3 separate regions of the Homo sapiens genome follow, and regions 2 and 3 are each linked to region 1. Evidence: fine-mapped expression QTL. A gene starts in region 1. Each other region holds a variant in brackets. All regions are shown on one strand. Distances are between the middles of the regions. Region 1 holds the start of ZNF529-AS1 (ZNF529 antisense RNA 1). Region 2 overlaps ZNF529 (zinc finger protein 529). Region 3 overlaps ZNF382 (zinc finger protein 382).

Region 1 (8,189 bases):
TCCCAGCTACTCAGGAGGCTGAGGCATGAGAATTGCTTGAGCCTGGGAGGCACAGAGGTTGCAGTGAGTCAAGATCACACAACTGCACTCCAGCCTGGGTGACAGGGCAAGACTCTTGTTGCAAAACAAAAAGAAAAAGAAAAAAATGAAGAATTGGCTCAGAGTGCTCAAACCCTGCACATTCCAAAGAAGAAATTGTCCTTGACCAGCTCCTGGGAGATAATCTCTGAGCAGTTAGAGTATCCTGCCTGATTAACAGAGTCTATGTATATCTGAGGTCTTAGCCATGCCAGATGGCTTTTGTTAACAATGTGGTTTATGGTAAATACCTGTATCCATCTGACTTCTGGGTAGGCTTGACTAAGTAGGTAAGGTCAGTGCACAGAACCTTCATGCCCACATGACTGATCGTCAATAAAAACCCCGGACATGGGCCAGGGCAGTAGCTCACACCTGTAATTCCAACACTTTGGGAGGCAGAGGCAGGTGGATCACTTAAGCCCAGGAGTTCAAGATCAGCTTGGGCAACATGGCAAAACCCCATCTATACAAATAATACAAAAATTAGCCGGGTGTTGTGGTGTGTGCCTGTAGTCCTAGCTACTTGGGAGACTGAGGTGGGAGGATCCCTTGAGGCTGGGAAGTAGAGGCTGCATTGAGCTGTGACCCCACCACTGCATTTCAGCCTGGGTGAGAGAGCAAGACCCTATCTCAAAAAAAAAAAAAAAAAAAAAGAAAAGAAAAAAGAAAAAAGAAAACAAAGCAAAACAAAAAACCCTGGAAACCATGGCTTAGGAGAGCTTCCCTGGTTGGCCACGCTTCATGTTTGTATTCGCACATTGTTGCTGGGAGAATTAGGTGCTGCCTGTGCAACTGCACTGGAAGCTTGCACCTGGTTTCTCCCGGTATTTGCCCTATGCAACTTTTCCCTTTGCTGATTTTAATGTGTACCTTTTCATTGTAATGAAGAATAACTATGAGCATAACAGCTTTTCTGAGTTCTGTGAGTCCTTCTCGCAAATCATTGAACCTAAGACAGTCAAATTGCCTTAATAGAACATTTGCAAATCTGGCTTTTAAAAAATTCATTTCAAGTGCCCATCAAAATTAACTTTATATTTTCATTGCTCTTGATTTACAGAAAATGTATGGGGAATACTAAGAATCTTCACAAACCAGCTTTTTTTCTTCCCTTGCAGATAAGGACTTAAAGTGCCAGGCCTTTATTAAATTCTCTAGGTTTATGTCCATATTAATGTATCCAGGCCTCATAAAGACCCTAAAGCACTGATATAATTATTGTTTACATTCTACAACAAGAAACTGTAAAGCGGAAAAATGAGTAACTATTAACCCCTTTGAAATGCAGTGTGAACATATAACTGAATTTTAAATTTTTTTCACTTTTCCTAAGCTAATTAACACAGGATTACCTTTAATTTTAATTAACTTACATTTAAATACAAAAGCAATATAAATGTTTTTCTATTAAACACAACTTTATTGTTTTGGTAGGACTATAATTCACCCTAAACACTGAAAATTTAGCATCCAAATTGAGACATGCAATAACAATAAAACATATACCAGATTTTGAAAACTTGGTATAAAGATATGAGTGTAAAGTATTTCAGTGTATTCATATCATTACATGTTGAAATAATATTTTGGATATATTGGTTTAAATAAAATACATTACCAAAATTAACTTCAGCTGTTTCTTTTTCTTTTTAAAATGTGTTTAAAGCCGGGCGCAGTGGCTCACGCCTGTAATCCCAGCACTTTGGGAGGATGAGGTGGGTGGATCACCTGAGGTCAGGAGTTCGATACCAGCCCAGCCAACATGATGAAACCCCTTCTCTACTAAAAATTCAAAAATTAGCCGGGCATGGTGGCGGGCGCCTGTAATCCCAGCTACTTGGGAGGCTGAGGCAGGAGACTCACTTGAACCTGGGAGGCAGAGGTTGCAGTGAACTGAGATCGCACCATTGCGCTCCAGCCTGGGCAATAACAGTGAAACTCTGTCTCAAAAAAAAAAAAAAAAGTGTCTAATGGAAATTTTTAAATTACCTAAGTGGCTTTATATTATATTTGCATTAGACTGTGCTGCTTTAGACTCAGACACCACTGTATCAGGCTGCCTCTCACAATCTACACCAATGTCACACTGCCAAATCTCAAAGAAGATTTGGTTGTCACCACTTAAATCCCCTCATGAATGTTCTGGAAAAACTCCCTGCCCTTGTTGACATAGCCTCTCTGCATAAAACTCCTATCATATTCCCACTCCTAAATGTCTCCAAAGCCAACTTTGTCACTTACTGATTAATACCTACCATCTCCTATCTTGCTTTGTTTGCAAATCAAGTCTGTAAATAAGATCAAAGGTATCTAGTGTGCCATTCTACTTAATCACTCGTCTCCTCCTTAACAAATTACATTCTAAAAAAAAGTTTTAACTTCTCCTCCAGGAGTTGTATTTCTATACCATAAAAATCCTTTGGAAAAAAAGAAGCACATGGGAGAATTGAATGATTTACCTAATGCATATGTGAATATTCAATGAAAGGGAAATGGGCATTTGGAAAGGCAATGGAGGACAAGGGGACCCATCTCTACGGTCCTGTTGTTAATTGGGAAGAGAAAACCAAGGGACCAGGTAAATGAACAAAAAAAAAAACTAACCTTGAGTTGGCCATTAGTACCAATGCTGTCTTCCACTTCAGGGGGCCTTCACTTGCAGAACTACATAACCAAGAGGGAGAAAGGACTCATGACATCCTGGACTGGTTAAATAAGAACACAGTGTTCACCACCAGAAAAGCCCATCACACACAACAAACACACCCAGATCGAAGAGGGAAACTAGAATACTGTCGACTCCTCCCCACATCCGAGAAAAAGGTACGACCAATGCCTAGCAGTTTCTAGGGAACACAGCTCAGGAAATACTGTAGTTCTTTAATGTATAAATGGCCTCCAAACTCATGCAAGGGGAGTTATCCCAGGAATGAATACTACACCTATGCCCTCCCCTTCACGTCTTCCCAGGAAACTTCATTTATCTATCTTATCTATCTATCTATCTATCTATCTATTATCTATCATTTATCTATCTTCTATATATCATCTATGTAATCTATCTATATGCGTGTGTGTGTGTGTATAAGACCTCACGAAGAGATTCCATCACAGACATCACAGAGTCGGAAAAATGACGCTTTACCCAAAACAAACTCCTACAGGCTCACGGAAAAAAACGAACAAACAAACAAACAAAAAAAAACAAAAAAACACTTCTACCCCGTTCACACTTATAGTTGGTCACAACAGTGCTGTCACACGATCACGTCACCGTAGACCAGGGTCACACGATAGACCCCGCCCCTACTCACCGTCCTGAGTCCGATCAAACAGCACCCACGGCACACACTAGGGTCTCCGTCTCTCACACACACACACCACAATGACGTCGTAAACAATAGCACTAACCACCATCGTCCGCAGCTCCCGCGTACAGAGGCCTCAGGCTCCCGGCTCCACGTGGACCGACCTCGCCCGGCAGCGCGGGGCCACCTCACCGCGAGCTCCTCCCGCAGCCCGGCCCGGGTCACCTCGACTCGCCAGGCTTAACTCAATAACCACAACACCGGAAAAGGAAGCAAAGGTCGAAGTTCATCCGCGGCCCTGAGGCCTGTGGGAAACGTAGTCCAACAACGAAAGAGCCCTGAAGCTCAAGCGGAGCCCGCTGGCCGCAGGGGCCGCACCACGCCCCAGACCCTGGAGTTTCCGGGTGCGCAGACCCTTGCCATCAGCAGAGGCTGCCGCTGCGCGTCCCCTAGGCGCGGAAGAGGCGGCTGGTGGTCCCTGACGGCAAGGTGAAGTCGAGGCAGTAATCGGGAACCCAGGTTGGGAGGACAGAATGGGGAACAGGAAGCTGGGGCGAGGGTGGTCTTGGGGGAGGTGGGGGGCCGCGGAATTCTAGGTGGCCCCTGCCTCACCTCTGGAAAGAACCGGAAGCCCGGGCCGGGGAGGGTGAAGGGAGTCGCGGACCCGGCTGCTCAGCCGAGGAGGAAACCCGGACCCCAGGCTGAGGGAGGCCGAAGAAGGAACTGGAGGGCCGGGCTGGGAAGGCCTGAAGCGGGTACAGCCTTTAGGCTGGGGAGGGTCGAGGGGAGAACTCGGAGCCTGAGTCGGGCGAGGTTTTGCTCCACTCTGGCTTCTAAGTGTGGGGGCCTCAGGATGTGACCCGTGGTCGTAAACCTGAGGGTGACTTGGAGTTTTTGTCCGTTTTGCACCATGAGAAAGGCCCCAGATGGAATCTGGCAGGTAGCGGCGGTTCAGTGTGTGTGTGTCTGCCTTAGGGCGTGTTTTACACTGTTGACGAAAAGACTCAGACTCTAAAGTATTTGAAGAGACTTATTCTGAGCTAAATATGAGTGACCAATGGCCGGTGGCCCAGCCCTCAGGAGATCTTGAGAACCTGTGCCCAGGGTGGACGGGATATATGTGGTTTTATACCTTTTAGGGAAACATGAGACACCAATCAAATACATGTAAAATGTACATTGATTCCCTCCGGAAAGGCGGGACAGCTGGAAGGTGGCTGGCCTTCCAGGTCATAGGTAGATTCAAAGATTATTTGATTGGCAATGGGTTGAAAGAGTTATTGACGTAAGACTTAGGAATGTCTCCAGGTAGCACGCTTCACAGAGAATAGATTGTAAATGTTTCTTTTCAGACTTGGGGTCTTTTCTATCAGTAATTCCAAAATGGAGGAGGGTATAATGAAGCATGTCCGACCCGCCCACCCCCGCCTTTCCATCATGGCTTTACTAGTTTTTCAGGTTAGGAATGCCCTGGCCAAGAGGAGGGGTCCATTCAAGATGGTCTGGGTGTGCTTAGGATTTTATTTTTGGTTTACAACACCAGCACCACCGGAGTTTGCTGGTGTCCTTTCCAGTCAGTTTCAAAGCAGAGACAGCCATAGTTCTGATTTGTGTCACTGTAACTGTCAGTTCCGGAATTCCATATTTCTCCTTTAGTTTACCCTAATGTGTGTGAGATTTCATGTGTAGTTCATTTTTCTTTTTCTGAACAGCACTCCATTGTGCAAATATACCACAATTTGTGTAGTCATTTTTCTGTTGTTGAACATTTGGCATATTTACAGGTTTTATACATTACGAATAAAGCTGGCACGTTTCCATTTCTCCTGGGCAAATATTTAGAAGAAAAGTTGCTGGGTAATTGGTAAGTTTACATTTAACTTTCCAAGAAGCTGATAAGCCTTTTAGAATGATTAGTTGTGATTTGTGTGTGTGAGATTGTGTAACTGGAGTAAGTAGTTTCTGAGTTTGCTTTGCTATGTTTGTATGGAATTATAAGATGGGCTCAACAGGGTTGTGAATGTCATGTAGGATCCATAGGATTGTGGCTTTGTGGAGTAGGTAAGATCACAGGAAACTGAATGTGTCTGTGCTAATTGTTATTTATCATGGTTTTGTGTGTACATTCCATGATAACTGAAAATGGATCACTATGTAAGTGATGTTAATGACTGAAGAACTCTGTGTGTCTGGTGTATTTCATTTTGCTTGCAGAATTATGACAGTTTCTAATAACTAAAATATCACAAGCATTGGAAACTAGGAGGTAAAATTATAATTTCTAGATGACAGGGTTGCATTACCTGGAAACATCATACAAACTAAATCCAATATGTTGAAATGAGGACTCCATATGTAGCACAGAAGTAAAATACTTTCATCCCTACCACTTTGAATAGTTATATAGATTTGAGGTCCCCTCCCACCCATCCCCCCGCCTCCTGCTTGCCCCTGGATGAAGTTGAGGGTGATTTAATGCCCTCCTAAATCACTTTAAGCCAAGTAAAAGTACTTGAAATACTAAAAATCACAAAGTCAGCTTTGTAGTAATTAAAATAGTCATTTTCTAATTAAAATATTTACTGTAAAAATCAAATTTCAAACTTCATTTAAAAGAAAAATTTCTTTCAACTGTCTAGAGCCTACAGTGTAATTACTTTCTTCTCTACTTCCCCAACCGGTATTACTAAATAGGTACTATCTCGCATAATGATTAGGATTTAATAGTAAATGCTTATTAGTTAACCAGGCAGGTTTAACCACGTTATTATAGAAACTCTAAGAGGTTTCACATGTGTTTTTTTTTTGTTTTGTTTTGTTTGTTTGTTTTGAGATGGAGTCTCGCTCTGTCACCCAGGTGGGAGTGCAATGGCGTCGTCTTGGCTCCCTGCGACCTCTGCCTCCCGGGTTCAAGCAGTTATCCTGCCTCAACCTCCCAAGTAGCTGGGATTACAGGCACCCGCCACCACACCCGGCTAATTTTTGTATTTTTAGTAGAGATGGGGTTTCACCATGTTGGCCAGGCTGGTCTCCAACTGCTGACCTCTTGATCCACCCACCTCCGCCTCCCAAAGTGCTGGGATTACAGGCGTGAGCCACTGCACCCGGCCTCACGTGACTTCTTTTGCCTCCCTTCTCTCTGTTGTTCACCTTTTGAAAAAAAGAATCCAAAAGAGCAAGGGTCCTTTCCTGCAAATTATAAAAGCTATGGCTGAGAATGAATGTTTCTTCTCTCCTTTCTGAAATATCTTTCCCCCAGGATAACTGAGCATTTGCCTACCATGAAACTTCCATGAGACAGGATTCTCCATTTTCTTTTATTCTAGTCAGATAACGATGTTGCCTTCTCCAAGTTTCCCTTCTAATTGTAACTACTGTTCACTTAATAATTGGATATTTTGGCCGGGCGCGGTGGCTCACGCCTGTAATCCCAACACTTTGGGAGGCTGAGGCAGGTGGATCACGAGGTCAGGAGTTCAAGACCAGCCTGGCCAACATAGTGAAACCCTGTCTCTACTAAAAATACAAAAATTATCCAGGCGTAGTGGCCCGCACCTGTAGTCCCAGCTACTCGGGAGGCTGAGGCAGGAGAATTGCTTGAACCCAGGAAGCGGCGTTTGCAGTGAGCCAAGATCGTGCCATTGTACTCCATCCTGGGCTACAAAGCAAGACTCCGTCTCAAAATAATAATAATAATAATAATAATAATTGGCTATATCACTCAGCACTCCTTTTCACTCCTATAAACAGAAACATATTCCCTTGAATTAAATAAGCATATGTTCCTTTCATAAACCTTTTTTATACAGATAGTGATTTGATGTCTATGTAGTGAGTACTCAGGAGAGCCCATACAAGGGAAAGCCTCATCATGTCCACATATCTCAGTTTACTAGTGAGTGATTCTACTTTTTCTTTTTTCTTTTTTTTTTTTTTTTGAGACAGGGTCTTTGTCACCCAGGCTGGGGGGCAGTGGCACAATCTTGGCTCACTGCAGCCTCGACCTCTTAGGCTCAAGTGACTCTCCCATTTCAGTCTCCTGAGTAGCTGGGACCACAGGCACCCACTACTATACCTGGCTAATTTTTGTATTTTGTATTTTAGGTGGAGACAAGGTTTCGCCACATTGACTGGGCTGGTCTGGAACTCCTGAGCTCAAGCAACCGGCCCTCCTTGACCTCCCAAAGTGCTAGGATTACAGGTGTGAACCACCGTGCCCGGCCCTACTTTCTATCGAAGTAGAATAGGTAGATCACATTATTATTAACAGTATATGGGAAGAGGGAGGTCCTCCCATGTTACATTGTTCTCCCTTCACCTTCTGGGTCATGTTGCACCACTGTTTCCCTTCTAGTCATATCCCAGGGGGCCTTGTCCCATTTATACAGCTCTATTCTAGTGGTCACCAGAGGAATGGGAGTAATCTGATTGAAAGATAAGACAGAAGATTGTACTCTCTTTTTTTTTTTTTTGAGACAGAGTCACCCAGGCTGGAATGCAGTGGCATTGTCATGGCTCACCGCAGTCTCAAACTCCTGGGCCCAAGTGATCCTCCCACTCAGCCTCCTGAGTAGCTGGGACTAGAGGCACATGCAACCACATGCAGCTATTTTTTTTTAAATTTTCTGTAGAGACAGGGTCTCACTGTGTTGCTCAGTTTGTCTCAAACTCCTGGGCTCAAGTGATCCTCCTGCCTTGGCCTCACAAAGTACTAGGATTACAGGCATGAGTCACCACACTCAGCTGAACTCTACTCTTTATGTTCAGGAAAGCACTGGAGAAGAGAGAGGACAAGAGAAA
Region 2 (8,189 bases), 28 kb before region 1:
ATAGGACCAGAATTTTTGTAAATATTGAAGCTAAGATAGTATTAATTCAAAGTAGAATATGTGTTAACTCCAAGGCAAACACTGAGAAAATGAATACAAAATTTACAGAAAATAAAATAAAGGAACCAAAATGATACAGTAAAATAAATTCGGGCCAGGCATGGTGGCTTCCGCCTGTAAGCCCCTTGGGAGGCTGAGGCGGGCGGATCACTTGAGGTCAGGAGTTTGAGACCAGCCTGACCAACACAGAAAAACCCTGTCTCTACTAAAAATACAACATTAGCCGGCCGTGGTGGCACATGCCTGTAATCCCAGCTACTCAGGAGGCTGAGGCAGGAGAATTGCTTGAACCTGGGAGGTGGAGGTTGCTGCGAGCTGAGGTTGTGCCATTGCACTCCAGCCTGGGCAACAAGAGCGAACACCATCTCAAAAAAAAAAAAGAAAAAAGAAAAAATTCCATTAAACACAAAAGGTGGCAATATTGGGAGAATTAAGAAACAAAAAGAGACATACACAAAACAAATTAAAATATGGCAGAAGTCAGTCCTTTACAAGCAATTAATTTAAATGTATATTGATTAAACTCTCCAATTAAAAGGCAGAGATTGCCAGATGGATTAAAAAAAATGATCCAACTATATGCTGTCCATAAGAGACTCAGTATAAATCCCAAACTGTAAATAGTTTGAAAGTGAGAGGAGTGGACAAAGATTCCATGCAAATAGTTAAGCAAAAGAGAGGTAGGGTGGCTATGCTAGTATCAAACAAAATAGACTTTAAGTCAAAAATTTTTACAAGGGACAAAAAAGACACATTATATATTGATAAAACGGTCAATGCATCAAAAGATATAATAGTTATAAACACAAACACACCAAACAGCCCCAAAAGAAGTGAAGCAAACACTACAAAAAGTTGCAGGCAAAAAAAAAAAGTTCTACAACAGTTGGAGTCTTCAAAACTTCACATTCAATAATGGATGGAACATCTACACAGAAGATCAAGAAGGAAATAGAAAACTGGAAGATTATCAACTAACAACACCTAACATGTACACAACACTCTACCCCAAAACAGCAAAATACACATTTCCTCATTTTTCTCAGTATGGTTAAGAATTTCCCAAATCTTCACATTTTAGTTTCTTATTGCTTAAGAATTCCTCCTTCAATTCATCTCTCTCCTTTCCTGTTTTATATGCGCAATAAAGGGAACCCAAGCCACAAGTTCAATAATTAGAAATCTCCGCTACTATTCAGTTTTCATTGGTTGGAAGCGCTACCTTCCACAAAACACTAGAACATGATTCAGCCAAGTTCCTTGCTACAATAACCTGTTTCTCATTTCTGAGACTAAAACATTATGGCCTTAAATGTCCATATTTCTACCAACATTTTGTTCATGATTGTTTCTTTAACATGAATACCGTTCATGACAGGATTCTTTAAAATGGAAGCTTTCTCTCCAGTGGTTCTATTTTTTTTTTTTGTCCTCCCCAGAATCATTTTTACATCCATATTTCTAGCATCTACCCTCAGCATTCTTCTAGCCTATTTGCCCACCACCCAGTTCCAAAGCTTGGACTTGCACATTTTTAGTTTTTTGTTATAGCAGCACCCCACTTCTCAGTACCAACAACTGTCTTAGTTTGCTTAGGGTGTTGTAAGAAAATGCCATAGACTGTGAGGCTTAAATACAGATATTTATTTTCTCACTGTTCTAATTAAAATAGGGATTAGCAGGTTTAATTCCTGGTAAGGGCTCTCTTGGCTTCTCCTTGTGTCCTCATGTGGACTTTCCTTTGTGTGTGAGCATAGGAAGAGACGTCTCTCCTTCCTCTTCTCATAAGATCACCATTTGTATCAAATTAGAATCACATTCTTATGTCCTCATTGCCCTATGTCCAAATACAATCACATTGCAGGTTAAGGGGTGAATTCTGGCAAGTTGGAGTTGGGGTGGGGGGTGGCGCAGGGGTTATATAACTCCAGAAATCTCAGTCACAGACTCTTTACCTGTCCCTAACATACATATATTAGTTGCCATTAAATTGAATTCCTTCAAGGACATATAAAATTTAATGGTGCAGGACAGCAGAAAACAGGATGAGACTGCAATATCCTATCCTATTGAATATGAGAATAAAGCTCCTATGCAGGCTTAGAGAAAAGTCAGAAAGAATAAAGGGGCAAATGAAAATGGAAAGAATGGTGAAGTTTTATGTTTTTGAGTAAAAATAGTAAAAACCAAACAGTAATACCACCAATAATAATTATATTATGGTTTCGAGTAAGTGTGAAATGCCATAAGTTCATTACGAAGTTAAGTGAAAAATGTTAATATGATAAAAATATAGCTGTAACTACAAACAAGGAAAACATAATAAGGACACATTTTATTCATTAATTTATTATTTGTTAATGACTTCAAAAAGTAAAAGCCAAGACACAAGGATATTTTGTTTCTCTCACTAATTTTAATGTCTGTATACAAGGTTTAGATATTTAGTTTTAATTTGTTTAAGCTGGAAGGAAAAAAACACACACAAAGAAATATAGGACAAGTTCTCCTGGAGAACTATACCCAAAAGAGGAACATTAGCACTGATGGTAACTCAGGATAAAAAGGGAGAATGAGATCCAAGAGTAAATTAGCTGTGTTGTTACATAAATAGAATTTAGTTAGAAATAGAGCTACTACTCTATTTCAAAGATATGAAATAGCAAATATCCTGACAAAAAGGTTAACATACTCTTGTTCTTACTGTGTAGGACATGAAACAACAACCAATTACATATCTTTTAAAACTACTTGAATAAGCAATACTTACATAAAACATAGCTCAATATATCAGATGAGAAAATGGCTTAATACTGGTAATCATTCACACCGTTATAGAGTACATAAATTCTGGGAAAGACATCAGTTTCAAAAATTAAAATGTAATGAATGACAGTGACATAAATTTATCTGAAAATAATAGTAAAATTTTCTTATAAAAATCAAATAACCGGACAGGCGTGGTGGCTCATGCCTGTAATCCCAGCACTTTGGGAGGCCGAGGCAGGGGGATCACAAGGTCAGGAAATCGAGACTGTCTTGGCCAACGTGGTGAAACTCCATATCTACTAAAATACAATTAGCTGGGCATGGTGGCGCATGCCTGTAATCCCAGCTACTTGGCAGGCTGAGGCAGGGGAATCGCTTGAACCTGGGAGGTGGAGGTTGCAGTGATCTGAGATGACACCACTGCACTCCGGCCTGGTGACAGAGCAAGGCTCTATCTCAAAATAAATAAATAAATCCAATAACCAGGCTGGGTGCGGTGGCTCATGCCTGTAATCCCAGCACTTTGGGAGGCTGAGGCGGGTGGATCACCTGAGGTCGGGAGTTTGAGACCAGACTGACCAACACGGAGATATCCCGTCTCTACTAAAAATATAAAATTAGCCGGTCATGGTGGCGCATGCCTGTAATCCCAGCTAATCAGGAGGCTGAGCAGGAGAATAGC[C/T]TGAACCTGGGAGGCAGAGGTTGAGGTGAGCCAAGACTGCGCCACTGCACTCCAGCCTAGGCAACAAGAGCAAAACTCTGTCTAAAAAAAAAGAAAAAAAATCCAATAACCAGTGGCTCGTGATCTCATTGACTGCATAACCAAGTCAGCAGTCCTAAGAGAGAGATGATTTTGGAGTTAAATGAGATTAGTTAAACCAAAGAAGGTCTGCTGATTGTTGAAATGCCCAAACCTAGTAAGTCAACTCTGAGAGGGAATAAAAAGAAAAATAATGATAATAGATTAAAAAAACAATTGAAGCCATGTTAATATATAGTTGTAAATTCTCTTAATGTAAGTTCAGTGGTCATTTTTTCTCCCCTTTTAAAGGTGTTTGACAAATTTTAGAGTGATACTTTAAGAGAATGATAAATTTTAAGAGACTTACTGGGTGAGTAGTTTTATCAAATATTTAAAAGAGTTCTCTTCATTTGGATCCTGGTTGGTATAGCCTGCAGGTAAAAAGACTGCTTAAAGGAACTGGTTATATTCCAATATAACACACATACACACTATATATATATAGTGCCCAGTATATAGTGTATATACTATATATACATATATTGTGTGTGTGTGTGTGTATATATATATATATATATAGTGTGTTATGTAGTGCATGTGTGGGCATATATAGTATACATCACACACATATACATCACACACTATATACACACATATAGTATATGTGATATGTATAGTATACATCACACATACACTATATACACTATATGTGTATATACACTATATGTATATAGTGTGTGTGTGTGTGTGTGTGTGTTATGGTGGAATATAACCAGTTCCTATGTATGTGTTTTTTTGGGGGGAATATGTTGTATCAAAATAAAGTAGAAATTTAAAGAGAAGTCAACAATTGGATGAAAATGGAAAGGAGATCACACTTCTATCATTTAAAACAAAACAAAACAACATTACACAAAATGATGAGCTGTAAGACTGTAAAAATACATTGTATCTGACTAGGAGTGCTAACTCTGTGGAGGAAAATAAGTAAGTATAGATATCACAAGCAAAGAATTACAATGCAGAAAAGATATTGAAGTAATATTACAATTAAAAAACTGAATAGTCAAAAGAGCAATAATACAAACATCAAAAGCTATTGTAAACAAAACATGCCAGGATGAGAAACTCATGAAAAAAACTTTTTAACATAAAAAGGAGAAATATTTGGCAACATCTAACAAAGCTATAAGTATATATCAGCTATGACTAAGCAATTCTACGTCTACATACAGAATGACCATGAAGTCTAAAAACAGACTTTAAGAGAGGGAGATACTGAATTGCCTTGATTACCTATTAAATCCATCCACAGTATTTTCCTGTGAAAATCAGAAATAAAAAACCACTTTATACATTTATTTCAGTCAAATGATTTCTCACCAGTGTAAATTTTCGGTTGGCAAGTAAGATGCCCAACAACACTAAAGGAATTCCCACACTCCTTACATTCATAGGGTTTATCATCAGTATGAATGCGCTGATGTTTGGTAAAGGATGAACTATGTCTAAAGGCCTTCCCACATGCCTTGCATTCATAGGGTTTTTCTCCAGTATGAATTCTCTGATGTTCTGTAAGGGCTGAACTATGTCTAAAGGCCTTCCCACATACCTTACATTCATAAGGTTTCTCACCACTATGAATTCTTTGATGTTGAATAAGGGCTGACGTAAGTCTAAAGAACTTTCCACACTCCTTACATTCATAAGGTTTTTGACCACTGTGAATTCTTTCATGTCGAGTAAGTTCACTACCTACTCCAAATGCTTTCTCACATTCTTTACATTTATAGGGTTTTTCACCAGTATGAATCCTCTGATGTCTAGTCAGGGATGAACTATTTCTAAAGACCTTTCCACATGCTTTGCATTCATAGGGTTTCTTACCAGTATGAATTCTCTGATGACGAGCAAGTTCTCTACATACTCCAAAAGCCTTCCCACATTCCTTACATGCATAAGGTTTCTCACCAGTGTGAATTCTCTGATGTTCAATGAGCTGTGAACTAATTCTAAAAACCTTCTCACAGTGCATACATTTGTAGGGTTTCTCACCAGTATGAATTCTCTGATGTTCGGTAAGCTGTGAATGAAATCTGAAGTCCTTGCCACATTCCATACATTTGTAAGTTTTCTCATCAGTATGGATTTTCTGATGTCGAGTAAGTTGTGCATGCACTCTAAAGGATTTCCCACAGAATGAGCATTCAAAGTGTTTCTCACCATCATGAACTCTTTGAAGTGGAGTAACTTTTCCAACTCTTTCAAAGGTCCTTCTGTATTCCTTACATTTATAGAACTTCTCATTATGAATTTTCTGGTATACATTAAAGTCTTTATAAAAACTACATGTATTCCCATATTCCATATATTTACAAGGTTTCACACCAGTATGAATATTCAGTTGTAACATACTGGAGTTATCTATCCCAAAGGTTTTCCAACATTGATTACATTCATAGTTTTTTCCACCAGTATGTATTTTCTGATATTCATCAAACTCTAAGTCACAACTGAAGACCTTCTCATATTCCTTGTATTCATAGGGCTTCTCACTGTCATGAGTTCTCCGAGGTAAAGTAAGAGATTCATGAGTTTTGTAACTGGGCACATTTTCAGAGATGATTTTCATTTGACTGAAATATCCCACTTCAGGTCCTTGTAAGTCAATCTTGCTTTTGCTTTGCCAGTCATTTCTGAAAATGGAACCTTCAAGGCCACATAACTTGCTACTTTCCATTACCTCCCACTGAGAACCAGTGTTTTGAATAATATCTTTTCCTACAGATAAATGCTTAGTCTCATTCCTGGACTCCAAATCTGAAAGAAAGGAAAAAATAATTTTCATGTACTACAAAAATAAAACAGTTATAGAAAGAAGAGACAATTTAAGAATAATTCACCATATACATGAATTGGTTAAAATACTGTCATGAAAGATAAAGAGAGCTCACAGAGTAACAGCAGAACATAAAGATTATGAGGATTGTGATAAAGGTAACAGATTAAGTCAGTGGATCTGAAATTTGTGTGTTGGTCATCACCTGGTAAGCTCATTGGTTAAACAGAATCAAAATCTGTAGATGTAGAACTAGTCATTAGCATCTTGTAGAGGTAATGCTAACGCAGATCAAAATTTGATAATCCATATATACTAACACTTTTGTGGTTTTCCTCCCCAAAAATAAATTTTACCGAGGATAATAACAAGGTGCAGTTTGTTAAGACCTCATTTTGCCTGGGCGTGTTGGCTCATGCCTGTAATCCTAGCACTCTGGGAGGGCAAGGTGGGTGGGTTACCTGAGCTCAGAACTTTGTGACCAGTGAAACCCTGCCTCTACTAAAATACAAACAGCTGGGCGTGATGGCATGCGCCTGTAGTCCCAGCTACTTGGGAGGCTGAGGCACAAGAATTGCTTGAACCCAGGAGGTGGAGGCTGCAGGGAGCTGAGATTGCACCACTGCACTCTAGCCTGGGCAGCAGAGCGAGAGTCCGTCTCAAAAAAAACCACCTCATTTTAACGCATTCTCCTAATCATTTTTCATCTCCTAGATCAAAACAAATTTCCTATCATTTAGAGCTATCCACAGGACATTTCATTTCACATCAATGGTCTCTTTGTATGCCAGCTTCTTTTCTTTGTTAAAGTCTCAAGATACCCTCAGAAAGGGCATATTAGTTGACCCTAAATAACTTCATTTCTGTTTCTAATCCCATATCTAGTGCCTTACCCTCATATATATTTTTTTCAGTTGTGTATTCAATACTTTTCTCTTACACCATTTACTTCCTTATTCCTTAAATTCCACAAGGACAAATGTAATAAATTTTCATGTGCCAATGTATAACAAGACCTAAGGACATAGTATATGATAATTAATTAGAGGAAAAGTAAATCACTGTATGAATGAATCTAAATAAAAATAAAAGTATATATACAAAGATAAGTCACTAGAAAACAATAATTATCAAAATAATTATGTAACTATAAGAATAATGCCAGTTACCAATGCCTCCCAACCCTCACATTGTATTAGTGATTACATATGTATATTTATAATACAGTAAGATACATAAATATGGCGAACATTCATATGTATTTATTTTCCAACTGCTTCTCCACCTACACATATTGTCCACCACTATTGCTTATTCCCTCTTATGCAGAGCCATGATTGACATGTGGAATGAAGAAATACAATCGGGATGTGTTATTTACTTCTCTTCAACAGCATATTTACATTTACTCCGCCGTCCTCCTAAAACCTTCCTCTATTTTTTCTTTTATCTTCTTTTACAGATATTCCTTTCCATTTTCTTATAGCAAAAGTCAACTAATGCTGTACTTTCCAAAAATATATTTCAGATATTAAAATAATATCTGAATATAATTATAACTACTGTTAGACTTACACAGTTCTGAGCAAGGGCTTATGTGTGAAAAGGAGAATATGCTAACAGAATCATATGAAGAAGGTGGTCTAGGTAGACAAGATTGGAAGGCACTTTGTAGCAAAGGATTTTATGGAGATCATCTGGAGGCCAACAGTGAGAGAAGGGAATGCCTGAGGAAAACTCAGAGCAACACATAAACACTGCATGATAAAGGGCAAGAAT
Region 3 (8,189 bases), 61 kb after region 1:
CTGCCTCAGCCTCCCAAGTAGCTGGGATTACAGGCGCCCACCTGTATTTTTAGTAGAGACGGGGTTTCATCATGTTGGCCAGGCTGGTCTCCAAAGCCTGACCTCAGGCGATCCACCCGCCTCAGCCTCCCAAAGTGCTGAGATTACAGGTGTGAGCCACCGCACCCAGCCGAAATTGTGTTTTCTAAAGCTATTTACATATAAGCTGCCGCTCCTTAGGAAAATTTGGTCCTGTGGTTTATATTTTGGCATGAAACAGCATTGGGCTGTATTCCAGAATCCTGCTTGAAGATTTCTTTTGAAGAAATCAGAAATTTTCTTTGCATTTTTTTTATTTTTTTGAGACAGGTTCTCAGTCTGTCACCTAGGCTGGAGTAGAGTGGTGCCATTATAGCTCACTGCAGACTTGAATTCCTGGACTCAAGCAATTCTCCTGCCTCAGCCTCCCAAGTAGCTAGGACTACAGGCAGGCGCCATTCCTCTCAGCTAATGTTTTTATTTTTTATACATATGGGGTCTCGTTGTGTTGCCCAGGCTGGTATTGAACTCCTGGCCTCAAGCAATCTTCCCTCTTCGGCCTCCTAAAATGCTGGGGTTACAGGTGTGAGCCACTTCACTCACTTTAGAGATTTTCACTTTATGAATTGATAAATACAGCATTGCATCACTTAATAGGGATACATTCTGAGAAATGCATCATGAGGCAGTGTCATGATCGTGCAAGCATCACAGAGTGCTGATACAAACCGAGATGGTACAGCCTACTAAACACCTAGGCTATATGGTAGAGCCTGTTGCTCCTAGGCTACAAATCTGTACTGCATGTTACTGTGCTGGATACTATAGGCAATTGTAACACAATGGTAATTATTTGTATATGTAAACCTATCTAAACACAGAAAAGGTACAGTAAAAATGTGGTACTATAATCTTTTTTTTTTTTTGAGACAGAGTCTCACTCTGTCGCCCAGGCTGGTGTGCAGTGGTGTGATCTCGGCTCATTGCAACCTCCGCCTCCTGGGTTCAAGTGATTCTCCTGCCTCAGCCTCATGAGTAGCTGGGACTACAGGTGCACACCACCAAACCCGGCTAATTTTTGTATTTTTAGTAGAGACGGGGTTTCACCATGTTGGCCAGGATGGTCTCAATCTCCTGACCTCGTGATCCACCCGCCTCGGCCTCTCAAAGTGCTGGGATTACAGGTGTGAGCCACCATGCCTGGCTGGTACTATAATCTTATGAGACCACCATTATATATGCAGTCCATCATGGACCAAAATGTCATGTGGTGCATGAGTATTTTTCATCTAACTTATATATTGCTCAATGAAGTTTGGGCAACTCTAAGGAGCAAACATGTTTATAGAATCTAAGTCAACTTGACCTAAACATATACGACAAAATAGGAGTGATTTTACAAATTCATATTTTGTAGACCTAACTGCAAGGTCATAAGGCATATGCAAAATGAGTTCATCAGTTCAGAGGACTAACAGGACTCCACAGAGCATACCCAGGAAATGTTTTTACTTAGAAGCAAAGGATGTGGCTCAGCAAAAGAAAGGGAAGGTAAGCATTAGGGCTCAGAATCATCTAGCTGCACATTCCTCAGTGGTTTTATTCACACACAGACCGCACACTGTCTCTGAACTGAAGCACTAAGACCTGTATCAAACTTGATTTGGGGAGAGCTGACAGCAGAACTTCTCTACATGGGTTTTTTTGTTGTCATTGTTTTGTTTTTTGAGACAGAGTCTTGCTCTGTCACCCAGGCTGGAGTGCAATGGTGCAATCTCAGCCCACTGCAACCTCCGCCTCCCAGGTTCAAGCAAGTCTCCTGCCACAGCCTCCCTAAGTATCTGGGATTACAGGCATGTGCCACCACAACCAGCTAGTTTTTGTGTTTTTAGTAGAGACAGGGTTTCTCCATGTTGGCCAGGCTGGTCTCGAAGTCCTGACCTCAGGCAATCCTCCGCCCACCTCGGTTTCCCAAAGTGCTGGGATTATAGGCATGAGCCACCGTGCCCAGCCACTGCATGGGTATTTATGCTTCTCTGTTCACTGGTTACATAGTCAAGCCAGGCTATCTAACTGGTTATGTAAGTTTAAAAAAGTTAAAAAGCCATCATAAACAAATTGGCTCTGGGAGTCTCCCAGGGAATATCAGACTTTAACTAGTACCTTGTATAGCTCACTGGCCTTATCCCAACCAAGAGTCAGAGCCAGACATCTGGGCATCGTGGAGATAATTTTAGAGCTTTGCAGTCTGACTGTAAATCAGCTCCATCTTATAAACATGGTTCCTATAACTGCTGTGTATTTCCTGATAATGTATGTGAACAAGCATATCTCCTCACCCTCTGTGTCCCCAGTATCAGATAGTGCACAGTACATCTCAAATGTGATCATTTCTTGTCAGCTAATGCTTGAATTTCTCCACTCAGTTTCTGGTCTAGCAATAGAGCCAGGCTTGCCATGTCCTGCTTCACAAGTAATGTGCAACAGCAAAAGCACAGGCTCCAACACTAGTCTACAACATGCACCTGGGATGTTCTAGATATTTATCAGTTTATAATCAGGCTTTTTTTTTTTTTTTGAGACAGTGTCTCGCTCTGTCGCCCAGGCTGGAGGCAGTGGCTCGATCTTGGCTCACTGTAAGCTCCGCCTCCTGGGTTCACACCATTGTCCTGCCTCAGCCTCCTGAGTAGCTGGGACTACAGGCACCTGCCACCATGCCCAGCTAATTTTTTGTATTTTTAGTAGAGACGGGGTTTTACTGTGTTAGCCAGGGTGGTGTCGATCTCCTGACCTCATGATCCGCCCACCTCGACCTCCCAAAGTGCTGGGATTACAGGCGTGAGCCACCGCACCCGGCCTATAATCGGACTTTTCAAAACCCTAGATATGTGACAATACCAAGTGCTGACAAGAATGTGGAACAACTGGAACTCTTTCTTTTTTAACTTTTGTTTTAGATTCAGGAGTACAGGTGTGGATTTGTTACTGGAACTTTCATACATTGCTAATAGGAAAGGCAAAATGGTAAAGCCGGTCTGGAAAACAATATGCCAGTCTCAAAAAGTTACACATCCAATATGACCCAGCAATCCCACTTATAAGTACTTATCCTAGAGAAATGAAAAATTATGTGCACACAGAAACCTGTACATGAGTGTTTGTAAGTATTATTTATAATTAAAAAAAAAACTAGAGACAAGCAAATGTTCTTCAGTGTGTAAATGGATACACTGTGGTACATTCCCAAGATGGAATTCTACTCAACGATAACAATAATGAGCTACTGAAACATGCAGCTACATAGATGAACCTCAAATGCATTACGCTAAAGGAAAGAACCCAGTCCCAAAAAGTTACATACTGTATGATTCCATTTATATGACATGCTGGAAAAGGTGAAAATATAACAACAGAAAACAGATCAAATGTTGCTGAGTGTCTGGGGTGGGGTGGGGTCTGAATACAGAGGGGTTGCACGAGGCAATTCTTTGAGGTGTTGGAATTGTTTTGTATCCTGCTTGTGGTCATAGATAAAAAATCTATGCATGTGTAAAAAATAGAAGTATACATACAAAAAAGTGAATTGTACTGTCTGTAATTTTTTTAAATAAATAAAAATCCCTAGCTCTGCTTCATCAGCAGCAGTACCTCCTGATTTGTGTCTTCAAAGATATCTTTAGACTGGCTTCTGAATTACATATCCAGTAGTAGTCAGCCTACACACACACAGGCCTTGCCACATGGTCTCATCATTGTTCCGCAGGTCAACTCACAACACAAGTAACACATTACAGTTAGCCCGTATTTGTAAACTCCATCCAGATGATCAGCCCCCCATTGGAGTGGCAGGCTTCATGTCTGGGGGTGGCACACCTATGGAAGATGGAACTCAGTGTGTGTGCTCTGTTGGGCGTCTCCATCACATCTAACAGTGGCTGACAAACCAGCCAATACATAGTCATCAGGGCATATGCAATCATTGGGAATAATACTAAGTGGGGCCAATTCTGCTATCCCTTGGTTCTCAGTGGTATTCTTAATTCCAACACAGTGCCATTTAAAGGTCCCTGATTGTATATGTGCAGTGGCACAATCTCGGCTCACTGCAGCCTCCGCCTCCCAGGTTCAACCAATTCGTCAGCCTCAGCCTCCCAAGTAGCTGGGATTACAGGCATGTACCACCATACCCGGCTAATTTTTGTATTTTTAGTAGAAATGGGGTTTCACCATGTTGGCCAGGCTGGTCTTGAACTCCTGACCTCAAGTGATCCCACGCCTCAGCCTGCCAAAGTGCTGGGATTACAGTGTATGTTTTTATTGCTGCATAATGATTGTACATATTTATGGGATATGTGTGATATTTTGATACATGCATACAATATGTAATAAATCAGGGTAATTAGGATATCCACCTCAAACATTTATCATTTCCTTGTGTTAGAAACATTTCAAATATTCTACCTATTTTGAAATATACAATAAATTATTAACTATAGTCATCCTACTATCCTATCAAACACTAGAACTTATTCCTTCTATCTAACCATATATATATTTTTTTGAGACAGTCTCGCTCTGTTGTCAGACTGGAGTGCAGTGGTGCGATCTTGGCTCACGGCAACATTTGCTTCCTGGGTTTAAGCAATTCTCCTGCTTCAGCCTCCTGAGTAGCTGGGACTACAGGCGT[G/A]AGCCACCACGCCCAGCTTATTTTTGTATTTTTGGTAGAGATGGGATTTCACCATGTTGGCCAGGATGGTCTCGACTCTTGACCTCGTCGTGATCCACCCACCTCGGCCTCCCAAAGTGCTGGGATTACAGGCATAAGCCACCGCACTCGGCCCTATCTAAGCATATTTTTATATCCATTAACCAACCTCTCTTCACCACTAGCCACTCACTTCCGAACCTCTGGTAACCATCATTCTACTCTGACCTCCATGAGATCAACTCTTTTAGCTCCCACTTATGCATGAGAACATGCCAAGTTTGTCTTTCTGTTCCTCGCTTATTTCCCTTAACATAATTAACCTCCACTTCCACCCATGTTGCTGCAAATGGTAGGATTTCATTCTGTTTATGGCTGAATAGTATTCCATTGTGTATAAATCCATTATGCATTGATGGAGACTTAGGTTGATTCCATATTTTGGCTGTTGTTAATAGTGCTGCAGTAAACTTGGGTGTGCAGATACCTCTTAGATATACTGATTTCCTTCCTTTTGGATATGTACCCAGTAGTGAGATTTCTGGATTATTTGGTTGATCTATGTTTAGTTTCTTGAGGAAACTCTATAATTTTTTCTATAGTGGTTATACTAATTTACATTCCCACCAGCAGTGTACTAAAGTGTTCCCCTCTCTCTGCCCTCACCAAGATCTCTTATTGTTTGTCTTTTTGATAGTGGTCATTTTTTTATTTTTATTCATTTTTTTGAGACAAAGTCTCGCTCTGTTGCCCAGGCTGGAGTGCAATGGCGTGATCTCGGCTCACTGCAACCTCTGCCTCCTGGGTTCAAGCGATTCTCCTGCCTCAGCCTCCTGAGTAGCTGGGATTACAGGTGCGTGCCACGACGCCAGGCCAATTTTTGTATTTTTAGTAGAGAGGGGTTTCACTATGTTGGCCAGGCTGGTCTCCAACTCCTGACCTCAGGTGATCCACCTGCCCCGGCCTCCCAAAGTGCTGGGATTACAGGCATGGGCCACCACACCCGGCCTTACTTTTTGAGACAGAGTTTCGCCCTTTCACCCAGGCTGGAGTGAAATGGCGCGATCTCGGCTCACTGCAACCTCCGCCCTCTGGGTTCAAGTGATTTTCCTGCGTCAGCCTCCTGAGTAGCTGGGATTATAGGGGCCTGCCACCACACCTGGATAATTTTTGTATTTTTAGTAGAGACGGAGTTTCACCATGTTGGTGAAATTTGCATGAGATTTAGAAGGTGGAAGTGAAGCACTGCCACTATTCTTGGAAGGTTTTCATGGATGAGCAAATGGCTACATGTGGCATGTCCTTCTCATGGCCAGTGGCAAAAGCCAAGTCATAATATGAAAGCACATGTAAAGTTCTGTTGGGGACCAGCCTCAACACCACCTGTAGGGTACCTGAAGTCCGGTGGCGACAAAGGAATGAGAAGAGACAGGTTAAGAGTTCATAAAGGTGGGAGCCAAGGGGCCAGAGCAAATCAAAAGCTGCAAAGGCGCCAAGCTCTGGTCTCCACACTATTTATTGAGTACAATCACTTAGATCTAAGAAGCAGATGTTCAGGGGTGAAACAGTGAAAGGGGGGCAATGGCAGTTTAGGTACATTTTCTTTGTGCTGAAGCAGCATAAACTTAACTACTGATTTATTCTTTTACTTATCAGAGAGCAGCTGTGGGGAGTGGGCCTAACTAGAAGCCAGCATATCTGGCCACATTCCAATGCTTCAAAGGAGTGTCTTTCTCCTTGAGCACAGTGTTTATAGATAAGAGAGCAGGTCACACTCTGGTCATAGGAACGTGATGGCAATTAGGAGGCTTTCCTCCTCAGAGGCCTCTTGTGGCTTTCCACAACTTATTGTCCCATATTTTTATGGCCAGTTTATGCAGGCACTCCACAAGCCCTTTTCCCAACAGTTCTACCAAAAGTAACTTCCACTCACATTCTATTCGCTAAATCCAATAAATTGCATGTTAGAATGCATGTTAACATTATCTATTGGTTGTGTTTTGACAATTTTCTTTTTTTTTTTTCTTTTTGAGACAGAGTCTCACTGTGTTGCCCACGCTGGAGTGCAGTGGCGCGATCTCAGCTTACTGCAAGATCCATCTCCCAGGTTCACGCCATTCTTCTGCCTCAGCCTCCCGAGTAGCTGGGACTACAGGCACCCACCACCACGCCCAGCTAATTTTTGTATTTTTTTTTTAGTAGAGACGGGGTTTCACCATGTTAGCCAGGATGGTCTCGATCTCCTGACCTCGTGATCCGCCCGCCTCGGCCTCCCAAAGTGCTGGGATTACAGGCATGAGCCACCAAGCCTGGCCAATTTTGATAATTTTCATCCACATCAAATAAGAATAAATATAGCTTATTGGCCGGGCATAGTGGCTGCGCATGCCTGTAGTCCCAGCTACTCAGGAGGCTGAGGCAGGAGAATTTTTAACCTGGGTGGCGGAGGTTGCAGTGAGCCAAGATTGCACCACTGGACTCCAGCCTGGGTGTGTCTCAAAAAAAAAAAAAATGAAGTAGGCCAAATGTGGACTAATAATGAGAATGTGTAATAAATCACATATTATGAATAACCTACTTTTGTCCAAAGAATTTATGAAATTTACATGAAATATTCCCGTTAGAATAAAAGGAAACTGATAGCAGTTGTTGCATCTGTGGAAAGTGAGTGGCTACAGAACTGGATGTTAGGGGAGAATTAATTTTCACATTTTTGGTAATTTTTGAATTTTTATAATGTGTGCTTTTATTAAACAAAAAATTTAGAAGATTTTAAAAAATAAATGTAATGTCAAAATATATACGCCAGATACTCTTTAATCCCACTGTTGGGAATCTGCACAATAGAAACAAAAGAAGGTAAAATTAGAGTTCTAGGTGAACATTAGAAACAACTTCAATGTCTGTAGTAGGTAATGGCCCAAAATACGGACATACATTCCATTCTAGAAATATTCTGAACCTTACAAAGAATGGGTTACATCTTTACGTACTGACCTGGAAAAGTATTCATGATTATTATGAAAAGGACAAGACGCTGTCAAATGTCTGTATGGGGGTAAAAGCTCCTCCAAACACATGCAAAAAATGCTTTCTGTGTACAGGTTGTTTGAGCATAAAGGAAGAAGAAATACACATACTGGTTATCTCAGAGATTTGAGGGAAGGGAGGAAATTGTTTTCATTTTATTTCACTGTTTCAGTGAAATATTTCACTGGTTTCAGTGAAACATGTAATTTTAGAAAATTTATTCTCAATAAAAAAATTTATTCTCAATAATGGTTAATACAATAACTCAGAAACAGCATTAAAATGAGACCAAAATTTACACTTTAGTTATCCACTTTCTCACTTAAAAACATTTGATTTTCAAGGATTATTTAAATAAATAAATACTAATGAAACTGGTGGCTTACCAACTTTTTCCTTAAATAAAACAAAGACAATGTATATTTCCATCAACAAA

The links. PIP is the estimated chance that this variant, and not a neighbour inherited with it, causes the effect.
Region 2: its variant is the best candidate, but not a certain one, in a credible set for the expression of ZNF529-AS1 in subcutaneous fat (GTEx, PIP 0.65).
Region 3: its variant is the best candidate, but not a certain one, in a credible set for the expression of ZNF529-AS1 in blood mononuclear cells (TOPMed, PIP 0.62).

Annotation. Positions count from the first base shown.
Region 1 is chr19:36,569,648-36,577,836 of GRCh38, forward strand. It overlaps ZNF529-AS1 (ZNF529 antisense RNA 1), which reads left to right and starts at 3,702. Exons shown (of 5, transcript NR_173348.1): 1 at 3,702-3,908; 2 at 5,174-5,253; 3 at 7,494-7,590. It overlaps ZNF529 (zinc finger protein 529), which reads right to left and starts at 3,645. Exons shown (of 5, transcript NM_020951.5): 1 at 3,493-3,645; 2 at 2,686-2,745. The coding sequence starts at 2,699. RefSeq lists an enhancer at 3,702-3,791.
Region 2 is chr19:36,541,932-36,550,120 of GRCh38, forward strand. It overlaps ZNF529 (zinc finger protein 529), which reads right to left. Exons shown (of 5, transcript NM_020951.5): 5 at 1,682-6,391. The coding sequence ends at 4,935. Among named protein-coding and RNA genes, the nearest start is that of ZNF260, 18 kb to the left of the region's middle. The variant C/T (reference allele first, on the strand shown) is at 3,512.
Region 3 is chr19:36,630,462-36,638,650 of GRCh38, forward strand. ZNF382 (zinc finger protein 382) reads left to right here. Exons shown (of 5, transcript NM_032825.5): 5 at 1-3,653. It overlaps ZNF461 (zinc finger protein 461), which reads right to left. Exons shown (of 6, transcript NM_153257.5): 6 at 6,157-8,189. Among named protein-coding and RNA genes, the nearest start is that of ZNF382, 29 kb to the left of the region's middle. The variant G/A (reference allele first, on the strand shown) is at 4,706.